2 linked regions of the Homo sapiens genome follow. The protein of the gene in region 1 purifies or fractionates together with the protein of each later gene. This does not show direct contact. Each region holds a gene or a part of one and is shown in the gene's direction. Other genes may lie near its edges.

What was found.
Region 2: the proteins of RASL11B (region 1) and BPIFB1 purify together in Homo sapiens (affinity purification with mass spectrometry; one large-scale study listed by BioGRID and IntAct). This does not show direct contact.

What each region holds. Positions count from the first base shown.
Region 1 is NC_000004.12:52,860,073-52,865,877, forward strand, and holds the start of RASL11B (ras-like protein family member 11B), read left to right. Parts: upstream 1-2,244; 5' UTR 2,245-2,435; coding exon 2,436-2,577; intron 2,578-3,195; coding exon 3,196-3,252; intron 3,253-4,405; coding exon 4,406-4,482; intron 4,483-5,262; coding exon 5,263-5,733; 3' UTR 5,734-5,805.
Region 2 is NC_000020.11:33,307,214-33,310,371, forward strand, and holds the end of BPIFB1 (BPI fold-containing family B member 1 precursor), read left to right. Parts: intron 1-2,494; coding exon 2,495-2,554; 3' UTR 2,555-2,658; downstream 2,659-3,158. UniProt on the Homo sapiens protein: May play a role in innate immunity in mouth, nose and lungs. Binds bacterial lipopolysaccharide (LPS) and modulates the cellular responses to LPS.

The sequences.
Region 1 (5,805 bases):
TGAGAGACCCTAGGTAAGCACTCCCCAGCTAAGCCTAGTCAACACACAGAACTGCGAGCCACTAAAGTTTGGGGTGGTTTACTAAGCAGCAATAGATAACGGCAACTAGAAGTAATGGTAATACCTACCTCATAGGACTGTTATGAAGGTAAAATGAGATTTTTAAATGCAAAACCCCTGTGTACAACCTAGAATGAAACAAGCGCTCATTATGTATCGTCACTTCTCCTGCCTTGCCTCCTTCCTCTTTTTAACTCTATGAATGTCCCAGAAGGAGAGGTAGGTGGAGTGGAGATGGGCTATATGCTAGGTATTTGGAATTTGAATAGCTCTCTTTTCTTTTTTACATCTTTCTCTTGCTTCTCTCTTTTCTGTGTTCTTTAAAGCATAGCCAGATCATTTAGATCTAAAATAAGAACACCAAATCAAGCCTTTGCGTTGCAGACAGAAAAATCACGGGTTTTGTATGGGCTTATGGTAATGAAAATCAAGCCCAAGAAACTAAATGATTCAAAGCAAAATTCCCCTTGACAGCTTTTGTCATGTCTCTGTGTGTGTGTGTGTGTGTGTGTGTGTGTGTGTATGTTAAACTAGTACTTTAGCCTACATCATTATTTTACCATGTAAGCATGATAGAATAGCAGGCTTTTTGGAGGGGAAAGATTTTAAAAGTACATGGTTACCTGTAATTACAGTCTTGCAAAGTTTGATTTTATAGAAGTGACATTCAAGTCTGATTTAAACCATGCAGAAAGACATGGTGCATATTGGAAATGCTTTTTCTTTCTGACTCAAATGGCTGTTTCGTTCTAGTGATCTCCCTAGAAGTCAGCCTTTTATTATGTTTATTGTAAGGTTGTGTGTCTTTCTAATTACGTGGCCCATCCTAGAAAACTTGCTACCTTGAGATTACCTTTCTATTTCTCCTTGCATTCCTGCAAACACCTAAACCTCTGTAGACAAGAGGTTCATCTCAGAGTCTGAACTGGCTGAGGATCATAAAATTCTGTCAAATACCTGGTCAATTAAGTTCTGGCTGGAAGAGGGGGTCAAATTAGATGACTGACATGTGCGGATAAGGGCACTGGTTTATTTCACATTTTAGCCTTTAATGTGGGTGGGTACACAAAGCCACAGAGTTTGTTGCCATACCCCAACATAAAAGCCTCTGGGACAAGGTTGAAAGGGTAGCGGGGAGAGGGCCTTGGATAGCGGATGGGGTGGTTAACCCGCGACTCTGGTGACATTTTGCCATCAGCCGCTGGTGACATCTTGCCATCAGCTGCAGCTACAGAATGTTGCTCGCAGGAGGAATTTGGCCTGCCGTTGAAGATGTGTTTCTCAGATGAGACTGTAAGGGGCCGGAGCTTGGGATTTTAGGAGTGCAGGGCCCACCTCTTCCTTGGTATCAAGCCACTTAACTAAACTCTTGCGGTGTCTTATGACCAGGGACGAAGTGCGGGGCCCCTTCAGACGTCGCAGCTGGAGTAACTGTTTTCTTTCCATTTCACAGCTCTTGAAGGAGGTGTGACTGAGTGAGGCGCTGGAAAGCTTGTTCTATAATTACTTCTTGATCCGCTTCTAGGCGTGCTGTGCATGCGTCCGACCATGTGTGTTTGCGTTAGCTTGCGCCGTCGACAAGAGCCAGAGAACGTGGGTCTAGGATAAAACGTGGATGATATTTTTGCTTCAAATGTCACATTTTACGGGGGTCTAAAGGTCTTAGGCTGGAGTCTTTGCGGATGATTGCCAACTGTAGCTGAATCTATGAGCTGGGATGTACCCAAGCCAGTGCAATCGCTCCAAATCAGGGCGGGCGGCACTAAGCCGGGGAGCAAACACCGCTCCCGGCCCGCCCAGAGCAGACGCCCTAGGTTGGGGCTGCAGCGAGTGCGCGCGTGGGCTGTGGAGCCGGCGGAGGCAGCGGTCCGGAATGGCTCTGTGGAGGCTGCGCTCTCTTCCTGGCCCCGCAGCCACAGCAGCTGCCCCATGCTCGCGCGGCAGGACCTACCAGGCGCCCACCCTGGGCTGCGCCGCCTCGGACCACCCGCTGCTCCCCTCCGCCCGCTGCCTCTTCTCCCCGCGCCTCACGGGGCTCCGCACTGACTCCAGGCGCCTCCGGGGGCGTCGCGCGCGCGGAGCGGCGCCGGGGGCGGGGCCTCGTGTAGGGCGCCCCGGGATTGGCTGTGGGGAGAGGGGGCGGGGCCGGCCGCGGAGAAAACAGCCGGCGCGCCGCGCGAGTGCAGTCTGGGTCTGGAGCCTGAGCCCTGCGGAACCTCGGCGCTCGGCCCCACCCCGCCCGTACCTGCACTTATTTATTGTTGTTATTTCTTACCGCGGAGCCCCGCAGTCGGGTCCTCCCGCCCGCTCCCGCGCAGCGCTAGCATTCTCCAGTCCCTCAGTCCCTTCCCGCGCGGTGCGCCGCAGCCGAGGCGATGCGCCTCATTCAGAACATGTGCACCATCGCCGAGTACCCCGCGCCGGGCAACGCCGCGGCCTCCGACTGCTGTGTGGGCGCCGCCGGCCGCCGCCTGGTCAAGATCGCCGTGGTGGGCGCCAGCGGCGTGGGCAAGACCGGTGAGTCGTCGCGCTTAGCCCTGGGTCTGGTCTTGGACGACCCCTGACGGGAGTTGAGGCTGAACAAGGCGTGGGGAGCGGTGGGAGCTGCAGCCCGACCGCTCTCCGTCCCCGCGCAGGGAGCCGCTGCCCCTTGGGAGTGGGCTTAGCCGTTGTCTACGCCACCCGCCTGCTTCCACAGACGGGGGAAACAAGGATCAAGAATGGCCAGGCAGCTTTCTGGGGACCACCGGCACCGCCGCCATCAGAACTTTGGGGTGTTTGAGCCTCTGGCAATGCCTGGCACAGAAAGGGGAGTTAGTGAAGCTAGCCCCCCTGGGAGGTCTTGAAGGTTAGGAAGACATGGGTCTACTGGAAGGCTTAGGTGTGGCTCAGCCGGGCTCAGAGGAGGGGGTGGGCCCAGTGAGCCTTCCAGCTGCACAGAGCCATAATTCACGATGCCTTCTAGCCCCCTCCTTTTTGTCTGGAAAGAAGGGTCAAGGAGCTACAGGGTAGGAATTTCACTTGGTGGCCATCTATGGCTTTCTTTGGGAGAACTGTTTTCCAGGCAGGGGGTGGGGTGGAGAACAATCTAACTTCCAAGGTTAACACTTTGACGTTCTTTTTTCTGACGTGCAGCACTGGTGGTCCGGTTCCTCACCAAACGATTCATCGGTGACTATGAAAGAAATGCAGGTGAGACAATGCATTTGAGAAAAATTCTGTCCCATTGCAGGAGGACTGCGGTTCCCATTTTCCAGCGCTTCCCAGGGAGGTTCTTTCAGTGACAGTCCGAGCCTGAGGATCCCGCCACTTAAAACTTTCCCCAGTCCCCAGCCCTCCATGGCGCCCCCCTCCCATAACTACCATCTGGCCTCATTCCATTCCAAGCCCATTCATCATTTTATCAAGTGCCTGAAAGTATTCCCCTTGGTATGTTTTAACTATAGTGACCCCAGTTGGAAGCACCCTTTGTAGTCAAGAACCTCTCCCTTCAAAACACTCCTGCAAAAGTCGTAAAAAAAAAAAAAAGGAGTCCCTAGCTCCTTCCCCCACCCCTCTCCTTCTCTGCTGGCTGCCTTTCAGAGGTGACCTTTTAAAGCAAAGGCCAAAGGAGAGCAGTTGTAAACCTAAAGTTCCTCCTTCTTAACAAAGACAAACAACTGGATGGTAGAATTTTAGGAGGAGAATTCCCGAATAAATGAGAGGACACATTTTTCAATCCTTATGATTAAGAATAGCCACTGGGGAGGCTTAAGAGCTTTCTGCCTATGCTCTGTTAGCAAATTGCTTAACTCTGTAGACCATATGAGTACCTATAGGGGATTATTTGAAATGAGCTGTATAAGCTATCCCAAGATAAGACATGGCAGCCTTCTGATTTGATGTAGAGTTGATTATAATTATATCACATTTTTATTCCAACTGATAACATTGGCTGTGTGTTTACTAACAGTATTTGTCTAGCAAGCCATTATATCTAACGGCCAAAATACAAAGTTACAGTCAAAGAATGAATCAAGTACTCAAGAAAACAGAAACCTCACATAGGCTGAGCAAGATAATTTGCATCAAGGGAGTACTCTAAAAATGGAAACTTTGTTTAAAACTAGATAAATAAGTTTTCAAAAACTTGCAAACTTTGCCCTGGTTTTAATAAATCTAACATAGGGTTAAAATTGCTGTTGTTTTTTAAAAAAAATCTGAAGTAAGCCCACCAAATAGAAATAAACTATCGCTGTTTTGTGTGCATTTATGCATTGTGCATTTTTTTTCTAGCTTAAAACTCACAATGTTTTAAAAGTTGTACAAGAAGGAAGAACATAATCTCTTTTATTTGCCTTCATAGGTAATCTCTATACTAGACAAGTTCAGATAGAAGGTGAAACCCTGGCTCTTCAGGTTCAAGACACTCCAGGTATTCAGGTGAGAAGCTCTGAGACTCTGGGTGAAAGGGGAACCTACTTGGCTGTGGAATCACTCACTTCTTCTCAAAGTTCCTCATGCTGCAGGATCAGAGAAATTTGGGGAGTCACATCTAGACTTTTACATGTCTGACAATTCAATTGTATCTGGCTGTTGGTCGATCTTAGCATGGTTTAGTTTGGGAGATTTGGCTAGGGGGCAGAAATCTTCCTTTAGAAGGATTCAACACAGCCGGAAAGCCCAAACCGAATGCAGTTGGAATTGGTGTTTTCCTTGCTGTGGTTTAAAAGTCCAGTTTTAATATGTGTGTCTTTGGCATGAAAAACCAAGCTTCTGGGTATAGTCTGCAAATACTTGGAATCGCTTTTGTACTGGAAAGTTGCTCTATAGACAAAAGCGCCATGCTAGGGTTTTTCCCCCCGCCTCCTGAACTGGGCAGTTATCCAGGTTTAAATGCTTCCAGCTCCTATCTTTACTTCCCCAGACTTACTGTCTAGCCAGTTAATTTCCCATTTTGTGCAACTACAAAGTCGCTCTGCATGGAGTTCTCTGCAGGTCAATTTTCCACTTGAGTGTGGTAAGCTGCACTGTTATTTATTCCCACTCTGTGCAGCTGGATCAACATATTGTCAAGAAAGCTGAAGTGTGTGGGATATAAGTTGTTTATGGCCCTCAACCTGGCACTACTATGAAGGGCTCTTTTGAATTTGAAATCTACCCAAGCCCAGGCTCTTTGTACAACTGGCCAGCATTCACCTTGCCATCACTCCTCTCTTTCAGGTCCATGAGAACAGCCTGAGCTGCAGTGAACAGCTGAATAGGTGCATTCGCTGGGCAGATGCTGTGGTGATCGTTTTCTCCATCACTGACTACAAGAGCTATGAACTCATCAGCCAGCTCCACCAGCACGTGCAGCAGCTACACCTGGGCACCCGGCTGCCTGTGGTGGTCGTGGCCAACAAAGCTGACCTGTTGCACATCAAACAGGTTGACCCTCAGCTTGGACTGCAGCTAGCCAGCATGCTAGGCTGCTCATTCTATGAAGTGTCTGTCAGTGAAAATTATAATGATGTCTACAGCGCCTTCCACGTCCTCTGTAAAGAGGTCAGTCACAAACAGCAGCCTAGCAGTACACCCGAGAAGCGAAGAACCTCCCTCATTCCCAGGCCCAAGTCACCCAACATGCAGGACCTGAAGAGGAGGTTTAAGCAAGCCCTCTCTGCCAAAGTGAGGACTGTCACCTCCGTCTGAAGCAGGAGGAGCACTCAAGGGGGTTTGGTCTTCCCAGGAAGAGGGCCTGAGGTTCTCCTAGTGCAGGAACGT
Region 2 (3,158 bases), on another chromosome or scaffold:
TTCATTCATTCATTCATTCATTCAGTAATTCACTAAATATTTTTCGAGGGTCTTCTATAGGCAAGCCATGCTTCTGAGTGCTTGAGGCCACCGAAATGAACAAATGGAAAACACTCCCATCTTTTTCAAGCCTACCTTTTAGCAGAAGAGGCAGATACACAAGCCCTAAAGATGTAACATCAGGCTGAGTGGAGGAAGGCTGAGAAGAAAAATAAAGCAGGCTCAGGAGGAGAGAGTGATGTCAGGGAAGGGGGTGCTGTTTCAGATGGGGTGGCCAGGGAGGGCCTCTCTGAGGAGGTAACATTTGAGCCAATGCCTGAGGAGGTGAGGGGTGAGCCCTGTGGGTAGCTGGGAGAAGTGTCCCGTCAGAGGGACAGCGTATTAGGCCGTTCTCACACTGCTATAAAGAAATACCTGAGGCTGGGCTCAGTGGCTTGTGCCTATAATCCCAGCACTTTGGGAGGCCAAGGTGGGCAGATCACCTGAGGTCAAGAGTTCGAGACCAGCCTGGCCGACATGGCAAAACCCAGTCTCTACTAAAAATACAAAAATTAGCTGGGCGTGATGGCGGGTACCTGTAATCCCAGCTACTCGGAAGGCTGAGGCAGAAGAATTGCTTGAACCCAGGAGGCGGAGGTTGCAGTGACCTGAGATCACGCCATTGCACTCCAGCCTGGGCAACAAGAGTGAAATCCATCCCCCCCCCAAAAAAAAAAGGAAAGAAAATAAATACCTGAGACTGGGTAATTCATGAAGAAAAGAGGTTTAATTGGCTTGTGGTTCTGCAGGCTGTACAGGAAACACGATGCTGGCATCTGCTCAGCTTCTGGGGAGGCTTCAGGAAACTTCCAATCATAGCGGAAGGCAAAGGGGAAGACTGCACATCACATGGCCCAAGCAGGAGCAAGGGGTGGGAGGTGCTACACACTTTTAAACAACCAGATCTCACAAGAGCACACTCACCATCACGAGAACAGCACCAAGAGGATGGCGCTAAACCATTCACAAGAAACCAGCCCCATGATCCAATCAGCTTAGACCCCACCTCCAACATTGGGTTCTACATGAGATTTGGGCGGGGACACAGATCTAAACCATATCAGATGTCAAGTGCAAAGGCCCTGAGGCAGGGATTGTTGGTGTTCCAGGAAAGATGAGGAAGGAGGCCCAGGATCTGAGGCAACATCCAAGGCAGGTAACCTCATAGGCCTGAGATGCATGCATGCACACACACATATACACACACACACGCACACCTTTATACACCTATACACATACATACACACGCACATACAAACACATACACCTTTATACACATACATACACACACACACCTTTATACACCTATACACATACATACACACGCACATACAAACACATACACCTTTATACACATACATACACACACACACCTTTATACACCTATACACATACATACACACGCACATACAAACACATACACCTTTATACACATACATACACACACACACCTTTATACACCTATACATATACATACACACACACATACATATTGCACACATACACACCACACACATACACACTACACACACACACATAATACACACACCACACACATACACACTACACACACACATACACACACACATAATACACACACCACACACATACACACTACACACACACCACACACATACACACATACATACACACACATACACAGAGACGCACACATACACATATACACACATACACACACTACACATGCACATACACATACACACACACACACACACCATGTGGCCAGATGGTCTCAGCTCAAGGCCAGGATCATGTCCATCTTGTCCATGCCTCTGTCCCCGGTGCTCAGCATGGCCTGGCACACAGTAGGTGTTCAATAAATGCTTGGTGAGCAAATGACTCTCCGTGGCATCTGCTGGGGAGAGGATCTATGGCAGTGTCACCCTCGCTCCCAAATACTACCCTTAAGAAGAACAGCTCACAGTCACTGTGTGCCAGGCTCTGGGGCATCTCTCCCCCTCTAGAGTGGAGCCAAAACTTCAAGAAGGCAGGGGTTTCTGTCTGCTTTGTTCTCTGTTGTGATCAGTGGCTGCACACAGTAGGTGTTTAGTAAATGCCTGCTAACTGAGATGGACACCTTACTGTCATTAGCTCATGCAGAGGAGGGGCCCAAAGCAGGGGGTGATCAAGGCGGGTGCTAAGTGCAAATCCCACTTCTGCCACCTACTGAGTGCGTGACTTTGGAAAGGGGCTTTTGCCATCTTCAAGTCTCAGTGTCCCCATCTGCAAAATGGAGATGACATCAGGACCTGGTGTGGCATTAATGTTCACACACAGACCCTCCACCCCGACCCTTCTAAGAATTCTGTATTTGTGGGTTCAGGGTCATGGTCCCCCGGTGCCAGCAGTCACCTTATGGAGGACAAAACCAGCATAAACCACAAGGCAAAAGGTTAAAGAAACCTGTTTTCTGACTTTTCCCCTCCAATTCCAGGATGCCCTTGTGCTTACTCCAGCCTCCTTGTGGAAACCCAGCTCTCCTGTCTCCCAGTGAAGACTTGGATGGCAGCCATCAGGGAAGGCTGGGTCCCAGCTGGGAGTATGGGTGTGAGCTCTATAGACCATCCCTCTCTGCAATCAATAAACACTTGCCTGTGATGCCTGCCGTCTGGAGTCTCTTTGTCCCGGCACAGGAGTCATTTTGCCCCTGGCAGGCTTGGGGACTGGATGGCTGAGCCACACCTGGGTCATGTTCAGGCACATCTGAGCCAATCTGGGTGATGTCTGGGCCACATGTGGATGATGTCCACAGTCTTGACCACCTCCCTGTGCTTCAGGAATCAGAAAGCCAGCTCTTCCCACCTGCCTTCATGTCAGCCTCAAGACCATCTTCAGTGGGATGGCTTTTAGGGTGGGGGACATATGTTTTGTTTATCTTGGCAGTGTGGTGGACAGAGGACTCTCTGAACAATGTGGATCTGGGGGCAGATGAACTAGGCTTGGAGCTCTGGCTGGCCTCTTAATGCTTCTTTGACTCTGGGATGTAGTTTCCCCTCTGTGGGCCTCAGTTTCCTTCTCCGTAAAATGGGGATAGTCATTGTCTCTGCCTTGGAGGGCTTTGGTGAGGAGTAAATGAGAGAACAGTTCCAGATACATGG